Homo sapiens: one gene and its partners. The protein of the gene in region 4 interacts with the protein of the main gene of each other region in a biochemical or structural test. Each region holds a gene or a part of one and is shown on either strand. Other genes may lie near its edges. The genes, in order: UBE2K, UBE2D2, UBE2W and UBA1.

Region 1 (7,030 bases), on a different chromosome or scaffold from region 4:
TGGATGACTATGAATCTGAGGAAAAAATAAAAGTGGTACTATTTTCTTCAAGCCCTTTTTGTTTCGAATCCTTCTCTTTTTTTTTTTTTCCTGAGACAGGGTCGTTCTGTTGCCCAGGCTGGAGTGCAGAGGCACAATCTTGGCTCACTGCAACCTCCACCTTTCAGGTTCCAGCAAATCTTGTGCCTCAGTCTCCTGAGTAACTGGGTTTACAGGTGCCCACCACAATGCCCAGCTAATTTTTGTATTTTTAGTAGAGATGAGGTTTCACCATGTTGGTCAGGCTGGGCTTGAACTTCTGGCCTCAGGTGATCCGCCTGCCTCAGCCTCCCAAAGTGCTGGGATTACAGGCATAAGCCATTGCGCCTGGCCTCTCTTCTGGCTACTTTTTATTTGAGGCGGATTCTCACTCTGTTGCCCAGACTGGAGTGCAATGGTGCGATCTCGGCTGACTGCAACCTTCACCTCCCAGTTCCAGCAATTCTCCTACCTCAGCCTCCTGGGTAGCTGGGACTACAGGTGCGCGCCACCATGCCTGGCTAATTTTTTAATTTTTTTTTAAGTAGAGACAGGGTCTCAGCATGCTGGCTAAGCTGGTCTCAAACTCCTGACCTCAAATAATCTACCCGCCTCAGCCTCCCAAAGTAATGGGATTACAGGCATGAGCCGTTATGCCTCGTGGCTAGTTCTTTTTAATAGAATCCCATAGTGATTCATGCATGAGTTGAACTAAATGCCTGAATCACAGAACATATAACAATAATGAAATTTAAAGAAAAGTAGTGGAAAGAAAAAAAAAACTGACAGGTAAGAGAAGGGTACCTGAAGAAATTTTGTGACAATAACTGTCTATACCCAGAATTAGAAATGCCAGCTTCAAATATAGTTATAATAAATTTGGCTTCAGCACTACATAGGCTTTTCTTTTTCCTTCCTAAGAATTTTTTTTTTCTGATTAAACTCCAGATTAAACCATCTCTATAACCCATCATACAAAGTTCTTTGTTAATGGCCAAAATAATCTCTTAGGAGCAGTGTGAGGGCCCACAGATATTATATAAATAATGCTGGACTCGAGAGTCTCTAAAATCTTATTTCTATCCCTTATGTTACACGCTCTGACAACTTTCAATATATGACCACTTAGCATTAATCATAGCATTATTTGATCAGGGTAATACAACTAAGGAATCCTTATGATAACTATATTATTCATATTATAATAGTTTTTACTTTAAAACATTAACTTCTTGAAGAATAGCTTTTAATATTAAAAATTAACAATCTTTAAATTTAACTTAACCCAAAGAGGAGATGAGGAAGGAATGAGAATTTTTAAGCTGTCAACAATGATTCCATAAACCTAAAAGAAATTTTAGGAAGAAAAGCTCAAGAACTAAACTGTTCCTTTGTCATTGAATTATTAAGGCAAAAGAAGTGAAGAAAATTGAGTTAAGTAACATCCACAATATGGCATTTTCCCGTGAGTACTCTACTTCACAATCTGATTCTTTAAATACTACAAAAACAGCTGCCTCATTACTTAATAATGGTTATAAATTGCTTAACATTCCACATGTAAACTTTTGCTTTAGCATTTAAGTTTAGATTTTTAAAAACTCAAAAAACTGCAACATCCTTGCAATAAACATTTAACCTATCGTCACATTTAAAAGAAAAAGCATTAAAGTTTATGTCCTTGAATGGTGTTTTCCTTAACAAAATGAACTTCTCTCAATAGTTTTATATAAAATAACAGAATTCAAGTTACTCTACCTCAAATATATAAAAAGCATATTAAATCTAATCTTATCAAAATATTCATTTAGCAGCAGCAGCAGCAGAAATAAGCACTTTTTTTTTTTGAGATGCAGTCTCCCTCTGTCGCCCAGGCTGGAGTGCAGTGGTGCGATCTCAGCTCACTGCAACCTCCGTCTCATGGATTCAAGGGATTCTCCTGCCTCAGCCTCCTGAGTAGCTGGGATTATAGGCGCACGCCACCACACCCAGCTAATTTTTGTATTTTTAGTAGAGATGGAGTTTCACCACGTTGGTCAGGCTGGTCTTGAACTCCTGACCTCGTGATCCACCTGCTTCAGCCTCCCAAAGTGCTGGGATTACAGGCATCAGCCACCCCGCCCAGGCAGATATAAGCACTTTTAAATGACCAAACTTTTGGTCCCATTCTCGGTATCGGGAAAAAGAAAAGAAAAAAAATGACCAAACTTGTTTCTAACCAATAAAGAATATATCTTTTTTTTTTTTTTTTTTTTGAGACGGAGTCTTGCTCTGTTGCCCAGGCTGGAGTGCAATGGCACAATCTCGGCTCACTGCAAGCTCCGCCTCCCGGGTTCACACCATTCTCCTGCCTCAGCCTCCCAAGTAGCTGGGACTACAGGCGCCCACCATCACGCCTGGCTAATTTTTTTGTATTTTTAGTAGAGACGGGGTTTCATCGTGTTAGCCAGGACGGTCTCGATCTCCTGACCTCGTGATCTGCCCGCCTCAGCCTCCCAAAGTGCTGGGATTACAGGTGTGAGCCACCGCACTCGGCCATAAGAATATATCTTAATGTATCTTTTTTTTTTTCTTTTTGGGACAGAGTCTCGCTGTCGCCCAGGCTGGAGTGCAGCAGCGCGATCTGGGCTCACTGAAGGCTCCGCCTCCCGGGGTTCACGCCATTCTCCTGCCTCAGCCTCCCGAGTAGCTGGGACCACAGGCGCCCACCACCTCGCCCGGCTAATTAGTGTATCTTAATATATCTTAATGTATATAAGTATACATTATCCAATTAAAAAAATTAATCTACCTATTAAATATTGCTTCTATCTAATTTAGCTCAGGAAGTGCCTTGTTTATAAAAATCAATGAAAAAATTTAAAACTTTGCTGACAGACCTCTAGAATAATGTCACTGCCCTACTATCTTCCAAAAATACTTCAAAACAACCTAAAAAAAAATTCAAGAATAACTATAAGGTCTGACTTCAAGAAGAAGCTAGTATATTATTATATAAAAACATCTGCTATTAGGACAAGCATCTGATTTTTTAAAGATAACTAAAGGTCTCCTCTACATTTAATGATTGCAAAAAGGACTAAATGAAACAGCATCCATGAAAACTGCCAGACCAAGCCAAGCAGATAGGAAGCACTCGATAAACAGCATAAAAAATTAAATATCTAGAAATGGCTCGTATGAACTATAAAACAAAAAATAAAATTTTATCACTTAAGAATTGGTACAAGGTTGGGCACAATGGCTCATGCCTAGAATCCCAAGACTTTGGGACACCAAGGCAAGAGGATTGTTTTAGGCCAGGGGTTTGAGACCAGCCTCGGTAACTTGGCAAGATGCCATCTCTCCAATAAAGAAAGAAAAAAATGGGCTGGGTGCGGTGCGGTGGCTCACGCCTGTAATCTCAGCACTTTGGGAGGCTGAGGTGGGCAGATCACAAGGTCAGGAGTTCAAGACAAGCCTGGCCAATATGGTGAAACCCCGCCTCTACTAAAAATACAAAAATTAGCCGGGCATGGTGGCGGGCGCCTGTAGTACCAGCTACTCGGGAGGCTGAGGCAGGAGAATTGCTTGAACCCGGGAGGCGGAGGTTGCAGTGAGCCAAGATCGTACCACTGCACTCCAGCGTGAGAGACAGAGCAAGACTCTGTCTCCCAAAAAAAAAAAAAAAAAAAATGAATAAACAGAATTGGTATAATATGCTAAAGACATTCTAGGGTCTTAAAAAATCTGGATTAAAAACAAGAAAATATTCAAGAATATTAGATTTTTAAAAAGTGTTTTGGGTAGCCGGGCACGGTGGCTCACTCCTGTAACCCCAGCACTTTGGGAGGCCGAGGCTGGCAGATCACGAGGTCAGGAGATCGAGACCATTCTGGCTAACACGGTGAAACACCGTCTCTACTAAAAAAATACAAAAAAAATTAGCCGGGCATGGTGGCGGGTGCCCGTAGTCCCAGCTGCTCGGAAGGCTGAGGCAGGAGAATGGCGTGAATCCAGGAGGCGAAGCTTGCAGTGAGCCGAGATCGCGCCACTGCACTCCAGGCTGGGCAACAGAGCGAGACTCCATCTCAAAAAAAAAAAAGTGTTTTGGGTAACTGTTCATTACAGAATTATAGAACCACTCGAAAGTATTTAGCTGGTGGCCGGGATTGGTGGCTCACGCCTGTAATCCTAACACTTTGGGAGGCCAAGACAGGCGGATCACCTAAGGTCAGAAGTTCAAGACCAGCCTGGCCGTTATTGTGAAACCCTGTCTCTACTAAAAATACAAAAATTAGCCGGCATGGTGGTGCGCCTGTAATCCCAGCTACTCAGGAGGCTAAGGCAGGAGAATCACTTGATTCTGGGAGATGGAGGATGCAGTGAGCCAAGATTTCACCACCGCACTCCAGGCTGGGTGACAGAGAGACTCAGTCTCAAAAAACAAACAATCAAAAAATGAACAACAAAAAACACACACAAAGTATTTAACTGGATATGGTGGCATGCACCTGTAGTACTAGCTACTGAGGAAGCTGGAGGATTACCTGAGCCTAGGAATTCAAATTTATAATGAGCTATGACCATGCCACTGCTCTCCAGCTTGGGTAACAGTAAAACTTTGCATATAAAAAAATAGATAAAACAAAACAGACATCACCACCACTTCCAATATTAAGTCAATTCTGATTTACATAAAGTGATTAAAAGCACAGGCTTTGAAGACAAAGGCTATCAGTTGTGCTACTTAGATGGTTGACCTTAAACAAGTTACTTCTCTTAACTTGTTTCTTCATCTATGAAACAGCAATCGTTGTATTTACCTAGTAAGATTTGCTGAAAGGATTAAATGAGAAAATACATGTAAAGACTGTATAATTAGGGTTACCATATATTGTTATATGTTTTCTAATAAACAAATATTTGAATAGTTATTAATGCAAGAGCCTTGGTTATATGCTATATAATCTAAATTTACAGTAATATTAATTAATGAAGACTCACCTAATAAGAAAGTAAAATGCTATAAGGTTTATTTCTGTATCTTACCACCCGATTCCATGGTCTAAAGTAGCTACAGACTTAATTTGTGAACACCAAGTTCAGCAAAGCCACCTCCTTTCTATGGCTTGAAATAATCACTAAAAGCTTTCCTGAATAAAGAAAATAAACATTTGGACTACAGCCTGTATGAAGACATGAGTGAATGAAATGCTGAATGACAGAAAGAAGAACTTTAAAAACAAAAGCAACATTTTACCAATGAGATATTTAAGGCAAGGTCTGTTTTAGATACCATATGAAGGGTAACTGAGTGTCTACAGTCCATATGATTTAGAGGTTTACCATGCCAGATCTTTTATTCTATTAAATTCTAACCTATAATACCTGTAACAAAGCTCTGCTAAAACTGTTTTATGGAAAGAAAAAAATTAGCTAAAATTCAGTAAGAAATACCAGTCTATATTCAGTATCTAAATTTAGTATTTTTTAAATTGCTGTTTATCTAAACCAAATGAAGTTACCCTCCATATAATTTATAGATGTTTAAGATTATTCTGATTAAATGTTTCAGACAAGTTCTAATACGCACAATATTTTGATACAGAAAAAAGTACTTGCCTTCATATGGTGTGTCTGGAGGTCCTGCTATTTCTCCTCTTAATTCTGTAAAATTCTCATCTACAAGATCTACTTTAATTTGATTTTTGCTCGTCTTAAAAATAAACAGAAAATAAATGTTAGTTATGTCAGCAAGAAAAACGCCTAAAGTATTACCTATAAAAAATCTTGAAACCCCCTCTTTCATAAGCTTGATTATCTGCTCTAGTAAAATAAGTCTCGGCTTTTCTAGGACTTAATTATCCAGTTTTAAGAATATTTAAAACAAACTAATAAATTCTAACTTCATTGTTTTAAACGAAATAACACCACTATGAACAACAATACAATGGCTTCTTGACTTTCTAGGAATGTTATTAGGGAAAAATAGTATAAAAGCTATTTTATGTTTGCCAATTCCATGTATATCAGGCCCAAAGCGATAAATCTAATCATCCACAGATGAACACTAAGATATTATATTCTGCACTATACCCCCACGATACATGGGTTCTGCTTAAACAGAAAATTCAGGGTCATTAAAAGCCATTTAGGCCATAAACTCTCACTTGAACTAACCATAACAACTTTAAATGTTTAGTTTAACTGACTGAAATAGTACACTATCCACCAGAATGGTGAAAGCTCTAGCTACCTAACAGATTCTCCTTTCCATGAAAAATTCCAGAGGACTAAATGCCTCAAAAGAAAAGGCCTTCTTCAATTTGTTTTTCTGCTTAGTTTATTAAAACGGCAACTACCTACTTCAAAAAACCAGATTTCTACTTTAAATTTATCTACATTGACTTATTTTGCACTTTAAACTACTCCAAGTACTTTCCTATCTATAGCATTACTGAGTCTCTTAACCTTATGACAGTCCATTCTCAGAGCCATGATAACCTTAAATGATTCAGAAAACCATCCAGTGGGACTCACATTAACATTCGTAAGTGCCTGCCAGCAAATGGGCTCTCCACTTATATTCTCAAACCTATGTTAAAAATACAGTAAATCCTCTCGATTTTTTAAACCAAAATCCCTAAAGAACAGGTTACATCTTCCTTTTTTTGAGACGGAGTCTTGCTCTTGCTGCCCAGGCTGGAGTGCGATGGCACGATCTCGGCTCACTGCAACCTCCACCTCCTGGGTTCAAGTGACTCTCCTGCTTCAGCCTCCTGAGTAGCTGGGATTACAGGCACCCACTACCATGCTCAGCTAATTTTTGTTATTTTTAGTCAAGACGGGGTTTCGCCACGTTGGCCAGGCTTGTCTCGAACTCCTGACCTCGCGATACGCCCGCCTTGGCCTCCCAAAGTGCTGGGATTATAGACGTGAGGCACCGTGCCCGGCCTATATCTTCATTTTTTTTGGTTAGAATTCCATATTGTTACCTGATTGACACAACATATCTACTCTTATGTTTTTT
Region 2 (7,030 bases), on a different chromosome or scaffold from region 4:
TGGTCCAGTATAATTTTGGAACATTTATGACTTTAGGAGCTTGTCCCAAGTGTAACCTAATAGTTTTGAGGTACAAAAATTGGCCTTAAATTTTTTTTTTGAAAAATAATAAATGAAATGTTTACATTAAAACAATTTTGGCCAGGCGCGGTGGCTCACGCCTGTAATCCCAGCACTTTGGGAGGCCAAGGTGGGCGGATCACCAGGTCAGGAGATTGAGATCATCCTGGCTAACACGGTGAAACCCTGTCTCTACTAAAAATACAAAAAGTTAGCCGGGCGTTTGGGTCGGGCACCTGTAGTCCCAGCTACTCGGGAGGCTGAGGCAGGAGAATGGCGTGAACCCTGGAGGCGGAGCTTGCAGTCAGCTGAGATTGCGCCACTGCACTCCAGCCTGGGCGACAGAGCAAGACTCCGTCTCAAAAAACAAACAACAAACAAACAAAAAAAACAGTATTTTTGGCTCTTTAATACATAATACATGTTTTTTGTTTGTTTGTTTTTTTGAAATGGAGTCTCGCTCTATCACCCAGGCTGGAGTGCAGTGGTGCAATCTTGGCTTACTGCAACCTCCGCCTCCCTGGTTCAAGGGATTCTCCTGCCTCAGCCTCCTGAGTAGCTGGTATGACAGGCATGTATCACCATGCCCAGCTAATTTTTTCTATCTTCAGTAGAGACAGGCTTGTTGGCCAGGCTGGTCTCGAACTCCTGACCTCAAGTGATCTGCCCGCCTCAGCCTCCCAAAGTGCTGGGATTACAGGTGTGAGCCATCACGCCCGGCCCATAATACATGACACATGTTTTACCTTCCTGATTGTATTTATTTGCTAAGCTCTGAACAAAGCAAAAATGACCCACTTTAAAAAAATACACATTGCCTTGAAGAATCCAAAATACCTTAAAGATTCACCAATCTACTCATCTCTTACTCTGAAGGAATGCTCTTAAGAGAGTTTCACCAGCAGGACAGAGAATATTGGTAACAATATAAACTTTAGTAATGGATAAAAGGTACATTTATGTTGAATATATTTCTTTTCTTTCTTTTTTCTGTAGGAATTGAATGATCTGGCACGGGACCCTCCAGCACAGTGTTCAGCAGGTCCTGTTGGAGATGATAGTAAGTATTTAAAAGGAATAATGGAGTAATAGCATAACAGTGGTTATTTTGTGTGAAGAAACAATTATGGTATAGGGAAGAGGCAGTGTTTAACCCTTAGTGGCCCATGAAGGGAGCAACTCTATGTTCATCCCATTATCATCTGTGTTGTTCATTACATTTTGAATCTTCTGCCAGGTATTGGCTATGTAGTTGTTCTAGTCCTCTCCTACCTTACCTTCATCCCTTCTGGGTATTTTCCTGGAGTGAAATATTTAAGCTTTTACCTACAACTAGCTATTATTCTTGAGTAAGATAATACTAAGGATGATAGTATGTGTGTCTGTGTCTGACTTTCTACTGACTCATACTTGCGAAATCAGGTCTTTATTTATTTTTTTCTTGAGACAGGGTCTCGCTCTGTCAAGCCCGGGCTGGAGTGCAGTGGCGTGATCTCAGCTCACTGCAGCCTCTGCTTCCTGGGTTCAAGTGATTCTCGTGCCTCAGCCTCTCGAGTATCTGGGATTACAGGTGCATGCCACCACGCCTGATTAATTTTTGTATTTTTAGTAGATTCGTGGTTTCGCCATGTTGGCCAGGCTGGTCTCAAACTCCTGGCCTCAGGTGATCCGCCCGCTTTGGCCTCCCAAAGTGCTGGGATTATAGGCATGAACCACCACACCTGGCCAAAAGCAGGTCTTTATTTTTAATGTCCAATTTATCTGCTTAATTTTGTCTAAAAAGATGATCTTAATGCATACATTAGATGATAATTTCCTCTTTGTTCCACTTCATTTCAACATAATTTTTTCCCATATAGTGTCTTTTAACTTTTTTTAAAGAGGGGATATTTGAATGAGACTATGCTATGTGATGTAAAACTAATTCACAAAAAACTGTAACATTTGGTTGGGTGTGATGGCTCATGTCCCTAATCCCAGCACTTTAGGAGACCGAGGCAGGTGAATCAATTGAGCCCAGGAGTTCAAGACCAGCTTGGTCAACATGGTGAAGCCCTGTCTCTACAAAAAACACACAAAAAAATTAGCCGGGTATGTTGGTGCATGCTGGTAGTCCGAGCTACTTGGAAGGCTAAGGTGGGAGGTTTGCTTTAGCCTGAGCCTGGGTAGCAGAGTTTACAGTGAGCCAGGACCATGCCACTGCACTCCAGCTTGGGCGACAGAGTGAGACGCTGTCTCAAAAAATAAAAACAGGACGGGGCGTCATGGCTCATGCCTCTAATCCCAGCACTTTGAAAGGCCGAGGCGGGCGGATCACGAGGTCAGAGTTTGAGACCATCCTGGCCAAGATGGTGAAACCCCGCCTCTACTAAAAATAGAAAAAAATTTAGCCAGGCATGGTGACAGGCGCCTGTAATCCCACCTACTTGGGAGGTTGAGGCAGACAACTGCTTGAATCCAGGAGGCAGAGGTTGCAGTGAGCTGAGATTGTGCCACTGCACTCCAGCCTGCGTGACAGAGTGAGACTTACTCTCAAAAAAAAAAAAAAGAAAAAAAAATTTGTAACATTTAACAAATATTTTAAAGTATGCATACTTACAAACACTTGTGTAAATATGTAGATTCAGACCAAAATGAGTACATGGTTAAATTAGCTTATGTTTAATATTTTTTTGTTTGTTTGTTTTGTTTTTTAAGATGGAGTCTCACTCTGTTGCCCGTGCTGGAGTGCAGTGGCGTGACCTCGGCTCACTGCAAGCTCCGCCTCCTGGGTTCATGCCATTCTCCTGCCTCAGCCTTCCAAGTAGCTTGGATTACAGGCACCTGCCACCACACCTGGCTAGTTTTTGTATTTTTAGTAGAGACGGGGTTTCGCCATGTTGGCGAGGCTGGTCTTGAATTCCTGACCTTAGGTGATCCACCTGCCTTGGCCTCCCAAAGTTCTGGAATTACAGGCGTGAGCTACTGCGCCTGGCCTCAAATTGTTTTTTCCTGATTTTTCTTAATAATGTTGTGTCTGGGCCCAGCCCAGTGGCTCACACCTGTAATCTCAGTGCTTTGGGAGGCTGAGGCAGGCAGATCACTTGAGCCCAGGAGTGCGAGACCAGCCTGGGCAACATGGTGAAACCCTCTCTCTACAAAAAAATACAAAAATTAGCCTGGCCTGGTGGTGCATGCCTGTAGCCCCAGCTACTCAGGAGTTTAAGGTGGGAGGATCGCTTGAGTCCAGGCAGTTGAGGCTGTAGTGAGCCAAGGTTGCACAACTGCACTCCAGCCTGGGCAACGGGAGCGAGACTCTCTCAAAACAAAAACAACAACAACAACAACAAAAAACGGAAAAAAAGAATGTGTCTGGTCTGCTAAATCCTGAAGAATCAAAGCAAGGCCCTTTCACAAGGATTACTTTACAAATAGATAAATATTATAAATTATGAGTCTAAGTACATGTCATGAAAAAACTCATTTACATTATTATATTCTGACTTACCTAGCGTGAGTAACTATAGTATTTGGTACCAAACAAGGCAGGCTAAGTACTTAAACTATACAAAATAATTTAGTAAGTGCTGTTACACACGTTGTCTCATTTAAGCCTTACAACAACTCATTTAGGTGAGTGGAGTAGAAATTTTAAATTGTTTTAGAAAAAAGTCCCATGAGAATCTCATGGAGATTCTCCATGTGAACTCACTCTCAGGTTTTCTGATTCTAGTTTGTCCTTCCACTGTATCATATGGGCCACATACATCAGTGTACTCTTTCTATTCAGTTGGAAAAGTGCTTTTAGGTAAATTCCTCCAAGTTAAGAATGGCTGAAAATCTTTAATTAAAAGTGGTTGGAGTCAGGGGATTTGATTTCAATTTTGAAGTTTTCTTTAGCATGCTAAAGTAATTTGTCTTTGCTTTGCTTCTGCCATAGTTAGCACTATACATTTCTTTCTCAGGTTGAAAAATTGTTCCCTTTGGAGAGTTAAATAAAACTCTCCCACAGCCGAGTGCGATGGTTCACGTCTGTAATCCTAGCACTTTGGGAGGCCAGGAGTTCAAGACCAGCCTGGCCAACATGGTGAAACCCTGTCTCTACTAAAAATACAAAAATTAGCTGGGCGCGGTGGCGCCTGCCTATAATCCCAGCTACCTAGGAGGCTGAGGCAGGAGAATCGTTGGAACTGGGAGGCGGAGGTTGTGGTGAGCCGAGATCCCGCCACTACACTCCAGCCTGGGTGACAGAGTGAGACTCTGTCTCCGAAAAAAAAAAAAAAAAAAAAAAAGGCTGGGTGTGGTGTCTCACGTCTGTACGCCTGTAATGCCAGCACTTTGGGAGGCCGAGGCAGGTGGATTACCTGAGGCCAGGAATTCAATCAAGACCAGTCTGGCCTTGAACTCTGGTGAAACCCCGTCTACTAAAAATAAAAATACAAGAAATTAGCCAGGTGTGGTGGTGGGAGCTGTAATCCCATCTATTTGGGAGGCTGAGGCAGGAGAATCGCTTGAACCCGGGAGGCAGAGGCTGCAGTGAGCCGAGATCACGCCATTGCACTCCAGCCTGGGCAACAAGACTGAAACTCCGTCTCAAAAAAACAAACAAACTCTCCCAAAGCTAATCAGTAAGAGAAAAAAATAGATATTATTAGACTTCATCAAAATTAAATATATACAGGCTGCAAATGATGCCATCACGAAAGTGATAAAACATATAGAATGGAAGAAATTGTTGCAAGTCATATATCTCATAAGGGACATATATCCAGTATATTTTTAAAACTTTTTTTTTTTTTTTTTGAGACGGAATCTCGCTTTTGTCACCCAGGCTGGAGTGCAGTGGTGCGGTCTTGGCTCACTATAACCTTCGCCTCGTGGGTTCAAGCAGTTCTCCTGCCTCAGCCTCCCGAGTAGCTGATTATAGGCACGTGCCCCGCCGCCCAGCTAATTTTCGTATTTTTGGTAGAGATGGGTTTCACCATGTTGGCCAGGCTGGTCTTGAACTCCTGACCTCAAGTGATCCGCCCACCTCTACCTCCCAAAGCGCTGGAATTACAGGCATGAGCCACCCCACCCAGCTGTTTAAAAACTCCTATAACTCAGTATAAAAATAAATAACCAATTAAAAAATAGTCAAAGGATCCGAGTAGACATTTCTCCAGATAAGATGGCTAGTAAGCACACGAAAAGATGCTCAACATCATTTGTCATTAGGGAAATACAAATCAAAACTACAGTGAAGAAGAGCCAGGCACAGTGGCTCATGCCTGTAATCCCAGCTACTGGGGAGACTGAGACTGGAGGATCACTTGAGGCCAGGAGTTTTATGCCAGCCTGGGCAACAAAGCAAGACCCCATCTTTAAAACTAAAAATTAGCTGGGAGTGGTGGCTCATGGCTGTAGTCCCACCTACTCACAAGGCTGAGGCAGGAGGAACACCTGAGCCCAGAAGTTTGAGGCTGCAGTGAGCTATGATTTGGCCACTATACTCTAGCTTGGATGACAGGTTGAGACCCAGTCTCTAAAAAAAAAAAAAAAACAAGTATTGATCAGATCTTTCTGATGAACCCCACATAAGAGTACATCAAGTATGATTGGATAGCTAAATGTCCTTTTGTCATTTTATTTTTGTTATAAGGAGTCAGAATTTAATCTTAGAAGAAGGAAGAGAGAAACTGTTGGCCTTTTGAAACTTTTGAGCTCCTTTTGACTATCCTGGTACCCAAATCCCTCAGTACCACATGTTATTGATATTTAGTGTAAAAATAAAGTGGAGACTTGTGCTTTATTTTAAAACATCCAGATTTTAATGTTGATATTTAGTATAAAAATAAAGTAGAGATCTGTGCTTTATTTTAAAACATCCAGATTTTAATGTACTAGTAAATTTTTTTTCACTTTCCTGCAAAGATCTGGTAAGCAGGAAGAAATGTACATCCTGAAAGAAGTAAGCAGCCGGGCCCGGTGGCTCACGCCTGTAATCCCAACACTTTGGGAGGCCGAGGCGGGCGGATCACGAGGTCAGGAGATTGAGACCATCCTGGCTAACATGGTGAAACCCCGTCTCTACTAAAAATACAAAAAATTAGCCGGGCTTGGTGGCAGGTGCCTGTAGTCCCAGCTATTCAGGAGGCTGAGGCAGGAGAATGGCGTGAACCCGGGAGGTGGAGCTTGCAGTGAGCCAAGATCACGCCACTGCACTCCAGCCTGTGTGACAGAGCAAGACTCTGTCTCAAAAAAAAAAAAAAAAAAAAAAAGAAAAGAAAGAAACAAATAAGCTGAAGATTTAATGGCCATATATCTGTTTCCTTCTCTCTTCCCTCCCTTCCTTTCCCCCTCCTCCTCCCCTCCCTCTCTCCCTCCCTTCTCCCTCGTCTTCCTCTCCTCTGGTCTTCTTTAAAGGCAGGGGCTCACTCTGTTGCCCAGGCTAGAGTGCAGTGGCGCGATTGCAGCTCACTGAAGCCTCAAACTCCTGGGCTCAAGGGATCCTCCCACCTCAGCCTCCTGAGTAGCTGGGACTATGGGTACATGCCCCTACACCCCTGGCTAATTTAAAAAAAAAAATTGTAGCAATAGGGTCTCACCATGTTTCCTACGCTGGTCTTGAAATCCTGGGCTCAAGTGATCCTCCTGCCTCTGCCTCCCAAAGCCCTGTGATTGCAGCTGCGAGCTACCGCACCCAGCTTTCTTTTCTTTTGAACAGTTGGTAAATGTGACTCTCTTGAGATCTGTGCATTCAAGTGTAGGTCTCTGGGGATTCAGTCTCATACTATCAAATATTCTCACTGTCCCCTGCTGTTTTGTTTGTTTGTTTGTTTTTTTGAGATGGAGTCTCACTCTGTTGCCCGGGCTGGAGTGCAGTGGCGCAATCTCGGCTCACTGAAACCTCTGCGTCCCAGGTTCAAGCAATTCTCCTGTCTCCGCCTCCCAAGTAGCTGGGATTACAGGCATGCACCACCACGACCGACTAATTTTTTGTATTTTTAGT
Region 3 (6,174 bases), on a different chromosome or scaffold from region 4:
ATAAATACCATAAAGTAAACTAAAATGACACAGAGGAAAGTAGAGGAAAATGAAATAATTTCGGTACATCTTATGGTTTAAAGAGTAGAAAATAAGATGAAATATCCTAAAATATAGGAGCACAGACATTTAAAATTCATAATCAGGCTAACAACACTCTCTTGAATTTAGGAATCATTGAAAACTCCTTGCACTTAGATTTAATTTATATGTTAGTTACATTATTAAAAGTCATAAGGCATTTATCTGAGTCATTGCTCTACAGAGAGCAATTAATGGCTTGTAATAATAAAAAGAATATTTCTCTGTAATGCATTGTTGAAAGACAACCAGAATATCAAGAAAATGTATATAGGAATATGCTACTTGCCTCCTCCCTGCATTTCCTCGTGGGGCACTATTTGCGACATAGGCCTACAGAATTAGACTTTCATACTTAGAAGATAAGGTACACTCTTCTTCTTTTATTTATTTATTTATTTATTTTTAGGCCATTCTTCTGGTTTGCCAAATTCTATTAAGACAGTGATACATTTGCTTCCTTATTTATGCATGCTTAGATCATGAACATGATGCCCTTCTTTTTTTTTTTTTTCTTTGGTCAAGTAGGGATTAATGCCATAGGTTTAGAGAGAAGGATTGTTTTCAGTTTTTAAGAGAATTTTTTAAAAATACATTTTATGGTTCTCTTAAGGAATTAATATTCACTTCTGAAGGACTTACTTGTAATATATAATTTATCATTTTAGCCAGCAGGGAAATAAATCATTTTTAATCCCCAGAAGAAAGTGCTGGAAATAGCTTCTATATAGTCAGCAGTTCACCTGGAGAAAGATCTTAATTCCTTGTTGTTTTGACTAGGAATATCAATATTTGGTATAAAATAACTAGAATAGTTTATTACCTTTTCCCTCATGAAATTTTAAATATATGCAAATATATATATCATTAGATTCCTGTGGTGGATAATAATTTCTTCAGATTCTAAAACAGGTGTCTAGTGACTGCTTAATTGTTTCCAAGTTGCATCAAAGATGAATTGGTAAATAATGGAAATGAGTAGTGATATGAAAATGGTTATGTAACTACATATTACTTGTTTCTGGTAATCAAGTCTTATTTTTTAAAAGCCTATTGTTTTTCAGAATTGAGATATTTAAAACTTGTTATAACTTCTTCCTAAAAATAGAAGAGAAGAGGAGGTACTGTGTGTTACAAAAATTTTTTTAAATAAAGAATTCAGTGTCACTAGTTCTAAGCCTTTATGGTTACTGCTGCTTATATTTCTTGATCTCACTTTCATTAATTTTTTTGTACATATCTTAGCTGAATGCTTAAAATTTACAATTATTTGTAATTGTGTATGTAAATTGCTTTTCAAAAAGAACTGAAGCTTAACCATATTCTTCTTTTCTGAGGATTCATTATCAGAATCAGCTACTATACTGTTCTGTGTTATAGTAATGCCGTTACTGCCTGTGCATGATTGAGGTCTGTGAAGAAGGTGTCTTTTAATCTGCACCAACTGGCCCCAATCCTCTTTGTAGTCCTTTTTAAATTGTTTTAAATCTGTCCTTTATTTTTCTTCCTATTTTTCTGCCTCTTCCCACTGATGTCCAATGTGTCAGTCTTCCGCAGTTTCCTTTTCTCACTTCTAATTTATTCTCTCTTTTTTTTTTCTGAGGTTAGGGATTCTACAGAAGGACGATTATTAAAATTATGCCATGAATTTTTGAAAAATTTAAAATGCTCTCCTACAAATAAAATACATGGAGTTTCTGATACTAATTTCAGTTTGTCAGTAGATGGCTAAATTTGTTGAATAATTGACTACTTGGTAAATGAGCTGTTAGCTGTAATTAGTTCTTTAGTACTAATATTAAGGAAATTTTGTTATTTTCGGATGAGGACTCTCCCAAAGCCAAATTATTGTCCAAGCAAATTATTTATTTTTTCCATTTAAATTTCTAAGTCATTTTGAGATGTGGAATGATTATTTTTATTATTTATTTATTTATTTATTTTTGAGACGGAGTCTTGCTCTGTCACCCGGGCTTTAGTGCAGTGCACGATCTTGGCTCATTTCAATCTCCACCTCCTGGGTCTAAGCGATTCTCCTGCCTCAGCCTCTTGAGTAGCTGGGATTACAGGCATGTGCTGCCACACCTGACTAATTTTTAGTAGAGACAAGGTTTCACCGTGTTGGCCAGGCTGGTGTTGAACTCCTGACTTCAAGTGATCTGCCCACCTCAGCCTCCCAAAGTGCTGCGATTACAGGCATGACCCACCACACCCAGCCTGGAATCATTTTTTAAAAATAATTTGTGGGAGACTTGCTTTCTCAACATAAATTGTGTGTGGGTTGTTTTTTGTTTTTTGAGACGGTCTTCCTCTGTTGCCCAGGCTGGAGTGTGCAGTGGAACAGTCATTGCAGCCTTGACCACCTTGGCTCAAGCAATCCTCCTGCCTCCCGGGTAGCTGAGTCTACAGGTGTGTGCCACCATGCCTGGATGGATAGAATTTTTTTTTTTTTTTTTTTTTTTTTTTTTTTTTTTAAAGACACGAGGTCTCACCATGTTGCCCAGGCTGATCTTGAATTCCTGGGCTCAAGCATTCCTCCTGCCTCAGCCTCCCAAAATGCTGGGATTACAGGTGCAAGCCACCATGCCTCGTCTGTTTGCCGATTTAAGACAGGTTTATGTACATCATTATCATTAGAGGCACATAGAATCTAGACATGTACTTGAAACTTAGCTCTCTATCCTGAAAGTTGAAGTTAGGGTTCTTTGATCCTGGTGAGATGTTAATTGTAATTTTAATTTTCATATGTTAATATTGTGACTTGTATTTTGTGATGAGTCTCTAGAATGATTAAATGACTATTTTTTTATGAAAAATTTTTTGTTAATAAAATATCTGAGGGTATTTTGAGTATGTGGAAGGAATGCCTGAATAGAAGCTGATCTATCTTAACATACCTCAAGAACTCCAGTTTTAATATGGTGAGTGAGGAGTTGACTGGGAAAAGGAGAGATCCAATTCTTGTTCTAGTCCTTGGCACATACACTCTCTGGGTTTTGAGAAAAGGATGGTCCTACAACGATTCTAAGTTGTTTTCTCATTGGTCCTACAACAATTCTAAGTTGTTTTCTCAAAGGCAAAAGCATGATTTCAAAATGACATCACTTGTCAGATTTTCTGGTGTATGGAAAGATTTAATAATCCTGCCTCTTTTGAAGCCTGAAACTTACAATTTAAAGCCTGAAATCTACCATAAGGAACTTGGTAAATTGTGTCAGATACCATGAAAATGCATCTTTTCATAGTTAACCACAGATTGTTTATGTAAAGGCAAATTGGTGGTCAGGTTCAAGGTAAAATGGATTATTGGGTTGATTAGTAGCCAAAAACTAAATGCATGTTCAGGTCAAAATGAATTTGTTTGTTTTAGTTGGTGCCATTTTCCTTTTATTATTCAGAACTACAGAGTGTGCATTTTATTAATAGGAATGAAAGCTCATGCTTGAGGATTTGAATAGGGTGGATGTATATATTTTATAAACTCAAGTTGCAAAATATGTAAAGTCACTACTTTTTAAATAGAATATAAATGTTAAAACAGACAAATCTATGTTATATATTTTTTAATACATGTATCAGACTTGTTAGTTGAATGCAGATTACTTTGCTTTATGGAATTTCATAACTTTTAATAATAAAGCAGTTGTTATTGGATTTTTTCTGTAGACTTGAATACTAAATGGGATAGATACCAGACCTCTTTTTGGTTTATGACGTAAAAGTATTTGTACAGTAGTTTCTCTTCACAAAAGACTGAATTTTAAAGGATTATAGAAACAGGAACATGTCCATTTCCAAAATGAGTGCAACAGAATGAAGATAGTCACTTAAACCATCTATTTAACACATCACCTTTATGTAATATGTAGCTAGTTTTAGTGTTTTAATAAGTCCCAACTAAAGACTGAGTGTTTTCAGTGAAGATGGAAATGGAGACCCAGGCACTTGCTTAGAGTTATCGTGAGTCCGATGTTCCTGAACTTCAAGTTGTACAATTAAGGGCATACTCTAAGAACTTCTGGATGCTTTCTGGAGTATACAAACAGATCAACTAATGACTTAAATGAGTGACTCTTGAAGCTGCAAGAAGAGGAAAGAAATAACCACAAGAAGGGGCTATCTCAGCATCTGTTATTCCTGACAGGAGGAATTAAATATGCTCTGCTGGTAATTCTAAGCTTTTCTGCAGGGGATCTGCTTGCCCCAGGAGCACCTTAGTCCTCATTGAGGCAGCCATTCTGCCATAAAAACGATCATGTCTCAAGCTGTTCCTGCCGTCCTACACAACTATGTTAGTAGATGGTTAGATAAATATATGAACCATCTTTTGTACTTTGATGATGCCCTTTTCCTTTATTATAATCCTTAATTTCTACTTTCCATAGTAGGATTTGACTTTTCTCCATTAGTTTAAGCTACCCTGGATAAGTGACTCTGTTTATGTCCTCCCTATATTTCTTACTCATTTTCACACTAACATAACACGTAACAAAATTAAACATAAGCTAAATTGAAGAAGCAAGTGAGACAGCTAAGAGTTTTGTGTACTTGGACAACAAAGCTCAAAGCCACTGTGGTTATCTGTCCTGTTGGGAGCCCCTTTCAACCATTTTTTTAGTTGCCTGTAAGATTTATTTTTAATGTTTGCCTGCATAATGCAAAATACATAAGTGGGAATCCCTACGCCCTTTACAGTTAAGTGGATTATGGAAATAATAAGGAAAGTTTATCAACTAAGGTAGGAAATATCTTCTCATGTCTGTATCTGGCCTTCAGGGACTTAATGTGGGTGAATATATGTCATTAGACAAGATCCTAATATAGATGGCTGTATCCTGCAGATAGCCAATTCAACATTAAAATTTTATGTTTCCATACCTCAATGAAAACATATTTCTTTTATCCTGTTATAATTTAATGACATTCCCATCCAACTTAATCAAGCAATGATACTCAGTAGTCCTCTCCTTGCATTTTTCAAGTCCTGTTGAGTGTAACTTTAAAATGTCTCTGAGATTTCTACCTTCTCTCCAGTCTCCTTACCATTAGGGCCTTTCACTACCTGGCCTTGGTGTCCCTAGGCTGCTCTTCAGCTGTCCACAAACCTTGTTTCATAAGCAGTAGCAATGCAAGCTTCCACTGCCGTCTGCTAATGTTCTTCCCTCCTAGAATGTTCATGATCTGCGTTTCTACCTGAAAGGTCTAGTTCAAAGGTAGCTGAAAGGTTATCATCCTTGTCCTTTCTTCTCTCCCTACCAGTCATCTATCCTGAACTTTTTAACAGTAGGGACAGTGTTGCAATTGTGTTTGTGTCCCCAGCACGTAGCACACAGTACCTAGTATACAGTACCTGTAGCACATAGGCATTTAATAAGTGTGTATTGAATTAACTTGGTTATGCTTGTATTTTTATCCTAGCTTTCTCAAAGAAACTTAGGTGCTAGCTATTTTGAAACATATATCCAGAACCACCACCTGAGTAAAATGTATAACAGGACCCTGCTCTTTCTATCCCAGAGAGTTTGAGAAAACTACTTTTAAATAAATCATTAATCATTCTTCATTGGTTTTGGCTTTTTTTATAGGTGTTTCTCATATCTTTATCTCTGAGGCAAATTGCTTGTCACAAATTAATTGTTTTAAACTAAATACATCTCAGGAACCATAAAATCATAAAGGTAAACCTGACATAGAGTTTAAAAACCAGCATTAAGCAGATAATTATTGTGTGCCTTTCATATGCCAAGAAGGATGGCAGATGAGGTATATATCTTCAAAGGGCATATGTAATAAGGGAGATAATAAATAGAAAAGCATATCATATAAAATGTGACAAGCCTTAAGAGGTGCAGATAGTTTCTGATTATCAAAGAAACATGTCTGTGAAAAGTACTGTCATGCATAAAGATGGGCCAGGCACAGTGGCTTACGCCTGTAATCCCAGTACTTTGGGCAGGTGGATCACGTCAGGAGCTTGAGACCAGCCTGGCCAACATGGTGAAACCCCGTATCTACTAAAAATAAAATAACGGCGTGGTGGTGGGCGCCTGTAATCCCGGCTACTTGGGAGGCTGAGGCAGGAGAATAGCTTGA
Region 4 (7,030 bases):
GCGTGATCTCTGGCCCACCACAACCTCTGCCTCCTGGGTTCAAGCGATTCTCCTGCCTCAGCCTCCTGAGTAGCTGGGACTACAGGCATGCGCCACCACGCCCGGCTGATTTTGCATTTTAAGTAGAGACAGGGTTTCTCCATGTTGGTCAGGCTGGTCTCGAATTCCCGACCTCAGGTGATCTGCCTGCTTCAGCCTCCCAAAGTGTTGGTATTACAGGCGTGAGCCACCACACCTCACCCCTCCTTTTTCTTGTTCCCATTCTTTCTGTCAGAGATCTTTCTGCCTCTGCCAGAAGCCCTTCTTTTTGGCCTTTCTTTCCCTCAGCTTCTGTTTTTTTTTTTTTTTTTTTTTTTTTTTTGCCTTAACCTCTTTTTAGTGCTGGTTGGGACAGTGTGTCTGGGGTCCTCAAAACTACTCTCAAGCTCAATTCACCTAGAGTACTTACAGGACTCAGCATATAGTCGTGCTTGTGGCTACAATTTATTACAGCAAAAGGATACAGACCAAAATCAGCAAAGGGAAAAGGCTGGTGCAAGTTTCTAGGAGTCTTCTCCCAGCGGGAGTTAAACAAGGCGGCCTTTATTTCCCCAGTAGCAACAGTAACTACAGAAATAACAGCAACAAGGTGTAACAAGACATGAAATGTTGCCAACCAGGGAAGCTTGTTAGACTCAGCACCACCTCTTTTACTTGGGGCTGGTCATGTAGGCGCCCCCTTCCTGGCACATAACAAAATTTCCAGACTCCCAGAAGGAAAGGTGTTCAGCGTAAACTGTATTGTTTGCATGAACGGTTTAGGCACAGTGAACCACTGATACCAGGTAGGGAGCGGTGGGAACCTTCCTGAATTCCAAGTTCCCAGACACCAGCCAAGGAGCCGACCTTGGAAGCAGGCCTTTCCAAGGGTTGTAGTTTCAGTCTCCTAGGCTTACACTTCTCTGCACATATGGAAACTGGGTTGGTTATGCAGGGTTCTCTGAGAAGCTTTCTGTAAGGAGCAGTGTCGTTTTTGCTTACCCAGGATTTATTCCCCCTTTCATTTATTTCATTTATTCACCAGATAGTTTTAGTACTGTTTTAGGTATTGGGGATATACCAAGGAATAAAACAAGATTCCTGGAGGGAGAGGGGAACGGACAGCAAACAATAGACACAATACGATCGTGAGGTATATAGTTAATGTTGGTGATGAGTGCTCCTCAAAGGAAACAACTAAAACCAGACAAGGGAAGTCGGGGTGTCAGGGAGAATGGTTTGTAGTATTGATGACAATGGTTAAGGAAGGCCTGAGTTCTGCAAAGACCTCAAGGATATGAGGGACTAGAGTGCCCTCTGCTGTGGAAGAGCCTGCGCAAAGATCCTGAGGTGGGAGGGGTCAGGGAGCCAACTCATTTTACGGTAAGTGGAGGTGGGATCCAGGGGAGGATTCTGAGCAGAGGAGGGACGTGGCCCAATTTGGGCTTTGAAAGGATCCTGCTTGTCTGTGTGCCAGCATCCTGGTGGTGGTTGGGGGAGTCTGCATCAATCCTGGGTGCTGTTACCTGAAAAAATAGCAGGTGTTAGACGAAAGAACAGATGTCTGGCCCATTGTCTCCAGTCTGTTCCTGTCCACAGCTTCCCTTTATGCTGAGCCCCTGCCACATGCATCATCATCCTGGCCATGTGGCATTGTCACAGACCGTCTCTCCTGCTAGCCTCCTAACTCAGGGCCTGGGTCTTCCCCAGCATTAAGTAAATCAGTCTCAGGCAGACAGCCCTTTATAGGTGTTTGGGCCAGGTGCGGTGGCTCACGCCTGTAATCCCAGCTCTTTGTGGGGCCGAGGTCTTTGAGCTCAGGAGTTCAAGACCAGCCTGGGCAGCATGACAAAACCCTGTCTCTACCAAAAATACAAAAATTAGCCACGCATGGTGGCACACACCTGTGGTCCCAGCTACTCGGGAGGCTGAGGTGGGAGGATCGCTGGAGCCTGGGAAGTTGAGGCTGCAGTGAGCCGTGATCATGCCACTGCATTCCAGCCTGTGTGATGGAGAGAGACCCTGTCTCAAAAAAAATAAAGATGTTTGTTGGGTGAATGCACAAATAAGTGAGCTTTGTTCCCCCATCCCCACCCTGGAACTGCACTTTCTTAACCCTTTAGAAGTTAAAGTCTGACACGGCTGCTGCAGCTGTGCGCCAAATGAATCCACATATCCGGGTGACAAGCCACCAGAACCGTGTGGGTCCTGACACGGAGCGCATCTATGATGACGATTTTTTCCAAAACCTAGATGGCGTGGCCAATGCCCTGGACAACGTGGATGCCCGTGAGTTTGGAGGCGGGTGAGGTGGTCACGGGCAAAGTTGTGTGTGTTTCGGTGTGTATATACCAAGAGGGGTGTCCGTCTTTCTGTCCTCTCCTGATGTTTCTTTCCTAGCTCTCGCTTTGTGCTCCCCACAGGCATGTACATGGACCGCCGCTGTGTCTACTACCGGAAGCCACTGCTGGAGTCAGGCACACTGGGCACCAAAGGCAATGTGCAGGTGGTGATCCCCTTCCTGACAGAGTCGTACAGTTCCAGCCAGGACCCACCTGAGAAGTCCATCCCCATCTGTACCCTGAAGAACTTCCCTAATGCCATCGAGCACACCCTGCAGGTGATAAGCTGTGGGAGAAGGGAAAGAGGCCAGGCATCTGGCCAGGCTGCTGCCTCTCCGCCCCCAGGCCCTTGCCTTGCCTTCAGATGTTGCATGCCTAAGTGTAAGATGTGCCTTTTCTCCAAACCTCCCTCCCTCACTTCCCACCAGGCAGCCTAGGTTTCTAGAATGACTCATTCTTTTTTCACTTTTATTTTGATTTTTTTTTCAACACATAGACAAATATTAAGAATATTATGATGAATACTCAAATACCATTCCTCACCTAAATTTAACAATTCTTAATGTTTTGCCACATTTTCTTCTTAGATTTATGTAGATTTTTCTTCTTTGTGCTTAAATGTGTCACAGACATCACAGCCCTTTACTCCCTACTATTTCAGTGCCTCTGCCAAGTGAGGATATGTTGCTGTAGAACAGGGTTTCTTAGCTTCAGCACTACTGACATTTGGGGCTGGTTATTTATTTGTCATGGGAGAGGGGATGCCCTGTGCACTGTAGGATGTTTCTCAGCATTCCTGACTTCTGCCCACTAGATGCCAATAGCACTCTCCCTCCATCATGACATCTCAAAATGTCTCCAGACATTGCCAGATGTCCCCAGGGGTGCCACATCACTCCCAGTTGAGAACTACTTCTGTCTAACAGAAACATCATTTTCATGCTCAGCAAAATTAACAATCATTCTTACCATCTCTTCTAGTTATTTATTTGTCTCTAATGGTCCATATTCAGGTTTTCCCCAGCTGTTACTCAAAATGAGTTTAACAGCTGGTTTGTCAGGATGATTCTGTGTGTATGGTGCATTTATCTACAGAACAGTGCATATATTATCTAGCTCGGGGTGTCCAATCATTTGGCTTCCCTGGGCCACATTGGAAGAAGAATTGTCTCGGGCCACACATAAAATATACTAATACTAACGATAGCTGATGAGCTGAAAAAATAAAAGAAAAAAAGATCCGTGCATAAATCTCATAATGTCTTAAGAAAATTTACAAATTTGTGTTGGGCAGCATTCAAAGTCATCCTGGGCTGCATATGGGCCACAGGTTAGACAAGCTTGATCTAGCTGAAGTTTTACAAAGTGAACACACAGGTGACCACCACCTGGGCCAAGAAACAGAACCTAGGGATTACCATTGTGCTGTCAGAATAATTCTTAGTGCAGTGTTTGAGGCCAAACCATTTAGAATAGTAGGAGTATGAGGGTGGGAACAAAATAGGGAAGGGAAAAAAAAAACAGTTCCATCTGTCACTTTCTCCCTTCTGACACTGCAGTTCCAGAGTGGGTATGTTTGTATTTGTGCACCAACCACAGTCTTGCTAGGTCATGTGTAACCTTGAACTTAACCTCTCTGTGCCGCAGATTCCTGTTCTGTAAAATGGGAATGACAGCATCTACCTCACAGGACTATTGTGAACCACTTGGCATTTACTGTGTGCCTGGCACTGTTTTAACCAAGCTTTAAATATATATGTATTTGCTCATTTCTTCCTAGCAACCCCATGAAGGTAGGTATCACTGTTGTAACACCTGTTTTAGAGACAAGGCACAGAGGTAAAGATGTTATCCTGTGTGCCTGAAGTCACAAAACTAGGTAATACGTGGCATAGCTGGAATCTGAACCTGAATTTCTAACATCTGTACACTCCAAACCACCTCGCTAATGACTGCGAACTGTCCTAGGAATTCTCAGAGGCCAGAAGTTCTGTCTTGTTTGCTATTTTATTTTTTGAGACAGGTCTCATTCTGCCATTCAGGCTGAAGTGTATTGGCACAATCATAGCTCACTGCAACCTTCCAACTCCTGGGAAGTGTCTGTACGTGTGTGTGTGTGTGTGTGTAAGTGTCTGTGTGTACGTGTAAGTGTGTGTACGTGTGTGTGTGTGTGTGTGCGCACGCACGCGTGCCCGTTACGTTGACCAGGCTGGTTGTAAACTCCTGGGCTCAAGTGATCCACCTGCCTCAGCCTCCAAAAGTGCTGGGATTACATGTGTAAGCCTCTGTGTCCGGCCTCTGTCTTGTTTTCTGCCAAGTCCTCAGGGCCTGGATAGGGATCATTGTTGGTTTGGTCTGAGTTTTTTGTGTTTTAAAAAACTGTGGTAAGATATACCTAATTGAAGTTTTTATTTTTTATGGAGGCATAACATATCTAGAATAAGGTACACAGATTTTTTTTTTTTTTTTTTTGAGGTGGAGTTTTGCTCATGTTGCCCAGGTTGGAGTGCAGTGGCGCAGTCTCGGCTCACTGCAGCCTCCGCCTCCCAGGTTCAAGCGATTCTCCTGCCTCAGCCTTCCAAAGTGCTGGGAATACAGGCGTGAGCCACCTCGCCTGGCACTCAGATCTTAATACATTTTTAGGCTGGGCATGGCGGCTGACACCTATAATCTCAGCACTCAGGAGGCCAAGGAGTGAGGTTTGTTTGAGCCCAGGAGTTCAAGACCAGCCTAGGCAACATAGCAAGACCCTGTCTCTACAACAAATCTTAAAAATTAGCCGGGTGTGGTGGCATGTGCCTGCTGTCCCAGCTATTCGGGAGGCTGAGGTGGGAGGATCGTTTCAACCTGGGAGGTCAAGGCTGCTGTGAGCCGTGATTGCATCGCTGCACTCCAGCTCGGGTGACAGTGTGAGACTTTGTCTCAAACAACAAAACAAAACAGTTTTCCACATACACAGCACTATTGTAACCACTGCCCAAATCAACTTCATTGATTTTTCTTTTTTTGAGACAGTCTTCCTCTGTCACCCAGGCTGGAGTGCAATGGCATGATCTCGGCTCACTGCAACCTCCGCCTCCCGGGTTCAAGAGATTTCCTGCCTCAGCCTCCTGAGTAGCTGGGATTACAGGCATCTGCCACCACGCCCAGCTACTTTTTGTATTTTTAGTAGAGATGGGGTTTCACCATGTTGGTCAGGCTGGTCTCGAACCCTTGACCTCAGGTGATCCATCTGCCTTAGCCTCCCAAAGTGCTGGGATTACAGGTGTGAGCTACTGTGCCTGGCCTGGTTTTTCAATTGAGGTGGGGGAATGGGGAAGGCTAGAGGGCTTCCCCACTTCCAGAGTAGCTGTGCGCCTTGTACTTGCTTTATTCACTGATGGTCCTTCTAATAATGCCTGCGGAAACCCATTTTGTCAACTGTGGCCACATGTAATCTGTTTGCTCTGTCTGCAGTGGGCTCGGGATGAGTTTGAAGGCCTCTTCAAGCAGCCAGCAGAAAATGTCAACCAGTACCTCACGTGAGTAACTCGAGTGCCCTCTCGCCCTGTCCCTGTCCACCAGCCAAGGCATCCCGGCTGCTTTCCTCATGACAGTAACACTTGGCACCAGGCACACTTTTCACATGAATGAGTGGCTGTTGGGGCCTCATGTTGTTTGGGGTCGGGACTAGTTTTCCATGGAGAAAGTAAGATTGCTCTGGAGCCCACTCTTGAGGCTGACATGTAATCCTATCCTCTGTCCTCTTCGATTCCTGATAGAGACCCCAAGTTTGTGGAGCGAACACTGCGGCTGGCAGGCACTCAGCCCTTGGAGGTGCTGGAGGCTGTGCAGCGCAGCCTGGTGCTGCAGCGACCACAGACCTGGGCTGACTGCGTGACCTGGGCCTGCCACCACTGGCACACCCAGTACTCGAACAACATCCGGCAGCTGCTGCACAACTTCCCTCCTGACCAGGTAATGCCCAGTTGTTGGGTCCATTTGGCAGAATGTGTTTCCCTGAAATGGGAGCCTGCAGTGTGGGTCCTCCCACTGTGGAGTCCAGCTGTGGCAGGTGCCCTGAGGCATGGGGATCTGAGAAGAGTGATTGATCCTGACCTGCTTTTTCCTCACCCTAGTTCCTTTGAGCAAAGAGGCTTGGTTGCTATTGCCCTTGACTGTGGTGTGGGCTGCGTCATACCTGATTCCCAGTCAGGGCTGTAGGGATTATGGGGGAGAAATTCTGGAGTTAAGAGCACAGGAATCAATATGGGTTCAAATCCAAACTCTACTTGAACTTAGGCAAATCACGTAACTTCTCTCTGTACCTCAGTTTCCTCGTCTGTGAAGTAGAAATAATAGTGATCTATCTCATGGGGGGTTTGGGGAGGATTAACTGGTATTTATTAAAATGAAGTTAGTACAATGCCTGGTAATCCATGAGAGTTTGTTAAATGATGGGCTGTTTAGCACAAAATGGCTACCCAGTGATTGGTAATTGTTCTCTCAGCCAGATCTCTGGTTCAACCTGTGGGACCCTACAGTTGAGGTATTTTGTGATTGGCTCCAGTCCGCATCGAGTGCCCAACCCAAGATAGTGAATTGGGGGCACATCTGGGGCCTAGGTGAAGCGTGAAGATTGTCAGAGAGGCCTTCACTCTCAGGTCCTGTTCTCAAAAATCTCTCCATCC

What was found.
Region 1: of the proteins of UBA1 (region 4) and UBE2K, one has a biochemical effect on the other in vitro, tested with the Homo sapiens proteins (9 studies listed by BioGRID, with this or other methods).
Region 2: of the proteins of UBA1 (region 4) and UBE2D2, one has a biochemical effect on the other in vitro, tested with the Homo sapiens proteins (18 studies listed by BioGRID, with this or other methods).
Region 3: of the proteins of UBA1 (region 4) and UBE2W, one has a biochemical effect on the other in vitro, tested with the Homo sapiens proteins (5 studies listed by BioGRID, with this or other methods).

Annotation. Positions count from the first base shown.
Region 1 is NC_000004.12:39,736,106-39,743,135, reverse strand, and holds part of UBE2K (ubiquitin-conjugating enzyme E2 K), read right to left. Parts: intron 5,717-7,030; coding exon 5,623-5,716; intron 1-5,622. UniProt on the Homo sapiens protein: Accepts ubiquitin from the E1 complex and catalyzes its covalent attachment to other proteins. In vitro, in the presence or in the absence of BRCA1-BARD1 E3 ubiquitin-protein ligase complex, catalyzes the synthesis of 'Lys-48'-linked polyubiquitin chains.
Region 2 is NC_000005.10:139,599,316-139,606,345, forward strand, and holds part of UBE2D2 (ubiquitin-conjugating enzyme E2 D2), read left to right. Parts: intron 1-1,056; coding exon 1,057-1,120; intron 1,121-7,030.
Region 3 is NC_000008.11:73,785,689-73,791,862, reverse strand, and holds the end of UBE2W (ubiquitin-conjugating enzyme E2 W), read left to right. Parts: 3' UTR 1-5,644; downstream 5,645-6,174. UniProt on the Homo sapiens protein: Accepts ubiquitin from the E1 complex and catalyzes its covalent attachment to other proteins.
Region 4 is NC_000023.11:47,203,807-47,210,836, forward strand, and holds part of UBA1 (ubiquitin-like modifier-activating enzyme 1), read left to right. Parts: intron 1-461; exon of another isoform or gene 462-2,055; intron 2,056-2,141; coding exon 2,142-2,307; intron 2,308-2,441; coding exon 2,442-2,638; intron 2,639-5,816; coding exon 5,817-5,881; intron 5,882-6,121; coding exon 6,122-6,317; intron 6,318-7,030. UniProt on the Homo sapiens protein: Catalyzes the first step in ubiquitin conjugation to mark cellular proteins for degradation through the ubiquitin-proteasome system.